Linked DNA regions of Homo sapiens: region 1 is linked to region 2. Evidence: fine-mapped expression QTL. A gene starts in region 2. The other region holds a variant in brackets. All regions are shown on one strand. Distances are from middle to middle. Region 1 has its middle 3.8 kb from the start of LINC00572. Region 2 holds the start of UBL3 (ubiquitin like 3).

The links.
Region 1: its variant is fine-mapped to the expression of UBL3 in lung (TOPMed, PIP 0.95).

The regions. Positions count from the first base shown.
Region 1 is chr13:29,928,952-29,931,862 of GRCh38, reverse strand. No RefSeq gene overlaps it. Among named protein-coding and RNA genes, the nearest start is that of LINC00572, 3.8 kb to the right of the region's middle. The variant C/T (reference allele first, on the strand shown) is at 1,762.
Region 2 is chr13:29,849,261-29,852,171 of GRCh38, reverse strand. It overlaps UBL3 (ubiquitin like 3), which reads left to right and starts at 1,555. Exons shown (of 5, transcript NM_007106.4): 1 at 1,555-2,660. The coding sequence starts at 2,634. RefSeq lists silencers at 1,400-1,509, 1,780-2,079 and enhancers at 1,640-1,709, 2,380-2,449.

The DNA.
Region 1 (2,911 bases), 80 kb before region 2:
TTCCAGTCCTCCTGGATGACTTTGAGGGGTTCAAGACTTCAGCTGAGGAAGTCACTGGAAATAGCAAGAGAACTAGAATTAGAAGAGAAGCCTGTAAGTGAGACTGGATTGCTGCAATCTCATGATCAAACTTTAAGGGATGAGGAGTTGCTTCTTATGCACAACCAAAGACAGTGGTTTCTTAAGGTGCTGTGAACATCGTTGAAACGACAACAAAGTATTTACTCCAAAAACTTAGTTGACAAAAGGGTAAAATGTGGGTAAAATGCTATCAAACAGCACTGTATACCACAGAGAAATCTTCATGAAAGGAAGAGTCAACTGGTGCCACAAACTTCACTGTTTTCTTATTTTAAGAAATTGCCACAGTCACCCCAACCTTCAGCCACCATCACCCGGATCAGTCAGCAGCCATAACATTGAGAAGTATCCTCTACCAGCAAAAAGATGACTACTTGCTGAAGGTTCAGATGATTGTTCGCATTTTTTTTTAGCAACAAAGTATTTTAATTAAGGTATGTACATTGTTTTCATAGACATAATGCTATTGCACAGACTAGAGTATACTTTAACCATAGCTTTTGTATGCACTGGGAAGCCAAAACAATGTGCAACTCACTTTATTGTGATTTTGCTTTATTGCAGTGGTCTGGCACAGGACTCACAATATGTGTGAGGTATGCCCGTGTTAACTATCATCAGGGTAGTCAAAGGTGCTATGAGAAGGTAGGGGTAGTGGGACACAGACAAAGGAGAGTCTTTTTTTTTTTTTTTTTTGAGACGGAGTCTCACTTTATCGCCCAGGCTGGTGTGCAGTGGCGCGATCTCGGCCCACTACAAGCTCCGCCTCCCAGGTTCACACCATTCTCCTGCCTCAGCCTCCTGAGTAGCTGGGACTACAGGTGCCCGCCACCACGCCTGGCTAATTTTTCGTATTTTTTAGTAGAGACGGGGTTTCACCGTGTTAGCCAGGATGGTCTTGACCTCCTGACCTGATGATCCACCTGCCTCGGCCTCCCAGAGTGCTAGGATTACAGGCGTGAGCTGCCGTGCCCAGCCGAGTCATTCTTAAAAGTGGATACTTATGCCCCTCTTCCCTTTATATCCTCCCTGCTTTGAATGCTGTATCATTTAGAATTAAGTTCAGCCAAAGGGGCTGGGTGTGGTGGCTCATGCCTGTAATCCCAGTACTTTGGGAGGCTGAGGTGAGCAGATTGCTTGAGCCCAGGAGTTTGAGACCAGCCTGGGCAGCATGGTGAAACCCCATCTCTACAATAAATGCAAAAAAATTAGCCAGGTGTGGTGGTGCACACCTGTGGTCCCAGCTACCTGGGAGGCTGAGGTGGGAGAACACCTGAGCCCAGGAGGTCAACGCTGCAGTGAGTTGTGACTATACTTGCTGCACTCCAGCCTGGGTGATAGAGGCTCTGTCTCAACAACAACAACAACAAAAGTTCAGCCAAAGGAATAGGAAACCCAAAATAGCAGTCGCTTAAGTAAAGCAAAAATTTAGGTCTCTCCACTGTAAAAAGTCTGGAAGTAAGCAGTTCAGGGTTGGTTTGGTGACTCTGTAGTGACAGGGACTCAGGCTCCTTGTGACTTTTGCCTTACCACATGCAGCTTCCATTCCCAAGGTCACCTCATGGTCCACAATTGCCACTGGAGTGCCAACCATTACATCTGAATTCCAGCTACCTGAATGAAGAGGGGGACAAAGACGAGCATGTCCCTTCCATTTAAGGACATGTCAGAAGTTGCATA[C/T]ATCAGTTCCACTTGCATCTCGCTGGTCAGAACTAGGTCACATGGTTACACCAATTGGCAAAGGAGGCTAGAAAATGTATAGTCAGTCTTTATTCTGTGAAGTCAAGTGCACAGTTAAAACCTAGGGGCTCTATTACTAAGAAGAGGAAAAAGAATACTGGAGAAACAGCAAGCAGTCTACCATGTATGGACATCAGCAGATGCCCAATCCCCAGTATCGAGCATACTCAAAGACAGAAAAGGCTGTGTTTCCAACAGAAATCTAGGTAGGGGTTTGTACCATGCCTCAGATTCTCTGGGTTTCACATCTCTAAGGTCTTTGGCCCCTTTTTCTATTCCAGCTGCTGCGTGCTGAGCAACTCTGCACGGGCTGTGACCAACTTCTCAGGAGCTTGAAACTGCCTCCCATCCTAGGCATGCATGAGCAACTGCTTAGTGCCTCGCCTCCAGCCTGGGGCTTTTCTGTTGAGCTCTGTCGTGAGACATCCACGGACCACATAGTGTCTACCTGTGTCCATCCAGAAGCAAGGGGCATCACCATCTGCCGTGCCAACCTTTGACCCATAGACGAATGCAGCAAATGGCTAAACTGTATCCCTCTTTTCCCACAGAAGGGCTGTCCTGAGATGCAGCCATTCACATGGCCTGTCAGAAGATGGACCTGCAAGATTGCATCATCGATTGAGCTGAAAATCCAGCAGTAGCGAGCTCAGTTACCCATTATTGGCTCTCCCTCTTTTTCTGCCTTGCTCCCCTCTTCCCTCACTCTTCTGTCCTTAGGAAGGCACTCCCCAATCTAGAAATAGCACACATACTTTGCCTCAGGCTCTGCTTTCTAGGGAAGTCAGGCTAAGGCAGGTAGGTCTCTTCCCTCCGTCCAGGCTCCCTTCCTCCCTCCTCCCCATTTCCCATTGTGCTTCTGGTTGAAGAATGCACAGTTCTGGTTAACAGAACTGAAATGGGTCTTCAGGCAGGTTCAAATGAAGTCCTTCCTGGTCTAATGCTTTCTAATCTTTGTATCCCAGACAAAATCAGCCTCTCAGGTTTAACAAGGTTTCTGGTTATCTCAAGTGAAAACAAAACAAAACAAAACAAACAAAAAAACAAAAACAAAAACAACTTTCACATTTTTTAAATAGCCATTTCTTTT
Region 2 (2,911 bases):
ATCACAGTGAGATTTGGGCCTCTCTTCTCTTCTGGCCTTTGGTTTTTCGGAGAATTTGATCTATCTTCCTCAGGGTGATATAGGCCCTTAGGAGTGTTTGGAATTTCTCCACCCAGGCTACTCAAGAGGCAGGTACTCTAAATGTCCTGTGGGTTTCCAACTGATGAGAAACCCAACTGGAGAGATTGCTGTGGGGAATCACGTAGGCTTCTAGACAATGAGCTCCCTGAGGACAGTGACTGGATTCTGCCTCTTTTCAACAGCCCTATAGACAAGGATGTAATAACCCCCATTGCCAACCCAAGACCTTGGCATTTCTGCCACATGATGCTGCTGTTCGCTACAGTGACTCATTTTTAAACTCCTAGTGCCTAGCAGAGTGCCTGGCACATTTGTTTGCTGAATGAGAGAATGAGTAGTGACATTTCATATCAAATGATGCATTATTATTTACAAAGTGATTTATTTCCCATGCATGAACTCATCCTCATAACTACCCCTACTTTACCCCGGAAGGTAGGCAAGACCATTTTACAGATGAGGTCACACAGCTGTAGGTTGGAGAGGTGGCTTTCAGACTCTAAATTCATTGGCATTTATATATAGGCATCATATTGAGACTGCCCTTTCTAAAGTACTCTGTCAAAGGACTAAGAGATATGAATAGGGATTCAGATGTTGACCTCAGATTTAGGAACAAAATGCAGAAATCACAAATGTCCATCTGAATGGTGTCTCAACAATGGCATTATTTTCTCCTATTTGCTAATCACTGCAAGGCATATAGGTTTTCAATTACATTATGAGTTACATAGAATAGAATTTAGGGTCCAGATGGGTAAACTGGTGAATCCCCATGAAGTTTGTAGTAGCTATTTCCTGATACAGATTTGATATAATAACACTGTTGTATGTAATACAGTTTTGGTAATTTCAGTTAAGTAGATTGTAGCTTTATTGCCCTGGGTCTTCAAGGAAACACATGTTCAAATATTCTCACTGCTTAATGAGATCCTTGTTCCTGTTGAACTTATGTGACCTTATTGGAAATCAATGATTGCTTTTGTTCTTCAAAATGTAATGTTGAGGAGACCTAGATGAAATCACTCTACAAAATGCATTGAGATTGCAGGATGTGGAGAATGTGCTGTAATTAAAATGAATGATTCTGCTTGGAGGTACAGCATATTTTAGCTCTGTGTGCATATCGTGCATAAGGGAATTTCTCTATGCAGAATTATTTTCTCCCAACAATTCTCATGATCACAGCACTCCTGGTAGCAGGTATCACTTAACTCCTGGGCAGCAGCTTGTCCAAAGCAAGGGAAAGGGAGCTTTCCTTTCCTCGCAACTGTTGCTATGGGGGGCGTGGCTTCGGAGCTGGGTGAGGAGGCGTTCGGCGGCTCCCTCCCCCCCCCACCCTCGTAGACTACACTTCCCGTGATGCTCGAGGGAATGGTCTCCGTGGTGACGCACTTGGTGTCCGCGGAGGGAGGACGAGGACGGGGGCGGCGGCTGCTGCGAGGGGGGGCCCGTGCTCTCCCCGTTTCCCTTAGTCGCACTCAGGCAGCCGCCGCCGCCGCCGCTGCCGCCATGTTGGTTTGAGAGGCGATGACAGGAGGCGGCCGCGGCGTGTGGGACTGAAAAGTGAAGGAGGAGGAGGAGAAACAAAGCTCTGAGAGGAAACCATTCCCGGGCTGAGGAGAAGGAGGACCCGGCCTCTTCCGGGGACCAGCCGAAGTCGGCGTCGCCCGGAGCTCGCGAGGCCGGGGAGGGGAGGGGAAGGGAAGGCGGAGACCGGGGAGGCGGCGGCGGGGAAGGCGGAGGCAGAAGAGGAGTGGCGAGGAGCCGGAGACGATGCGCCCCGACCCCAGCTGCTGTCCGGAGGCGCCCGCGGCCTGAGCCCAGAGGGGCTGTGGAGTGTCCCGGCCGGCCCCGAGCACCCCCGCGCTGTCGGTCCCCCGCTCCGGTCTTTCGCTTTGGCTTCCAACTAGTTAAATGCCCTTGAGCGCGGGTTTCCGCGGCCCGGCTCTTCGCCCCCGCGGCGCGAGTTGAGCCGTTTCCCCGCGCTGTCCGCGCGGGCGCTCCGACAGCGGCTCTGCAGGGTCCGCGGCCAGCGTCCGGCCACCGCTCGGCCGCCACTCAAGGCTCACGCGTCGATGTGTAGCTACATAGTTATCTGTGTACATCCACGCTGGGGCATTTTTCTCCTGCTTAATGAGGACTTGACTCGGGAGCAAGTGTGAATCATTGCCGGGGCTGGGAAAGGAGGAAGGCGCATTTAACCCCCTCCCACCCCTCTCCATGTCCGTGTGTCACTCGGCTCGGTCCACCTGGCGCGGCCGGTCCTGGGGCTGCTGCTGCTGTTGACGACGACGACGACGACGGGGGCTGCCTCTGCTGTCCCGGGAGTTTCCTCCTGCTCCGGCCACACAGCTCCTGGGGATTGTTCCTCTTCGAACCAGAACCTCGGCCTGACCGGCACTTTGGCTCCAAAATAACTTTATTTTTGGGGGAGAAAGCACATCACGAACCAGTCAAAATCGTGGTTTATTTCTGTAACGTGAAGACTTCTGCTCTTTTTTCTTTGTTTGTTTTTTTCGTAAACATCTGGGTGTATATCAAACGGCAAGATGTCCAGTAATGTCCCGGCGGATATGGTAAGTGACGGATAAGTTATGACACTGATTTAATTGTGGTTTCCAATCTTATTTAATCGGAAAGACGGCAGGCGTGGGGCGAAGATTTGCTGGGGACTGTCGAAAAGCCACTGTGCTGAGCGATTTGGAGAAGTTGGAGCTTCTGGTTTCCCCCTTTTAGGAAGTACTGCTTTTAATATGGGTTCTCTCATTTGGTCGTGTTTTCTAAAGCATTGAAGATAGTGGAGAAGTAGGGAAATGTATCATGGTAG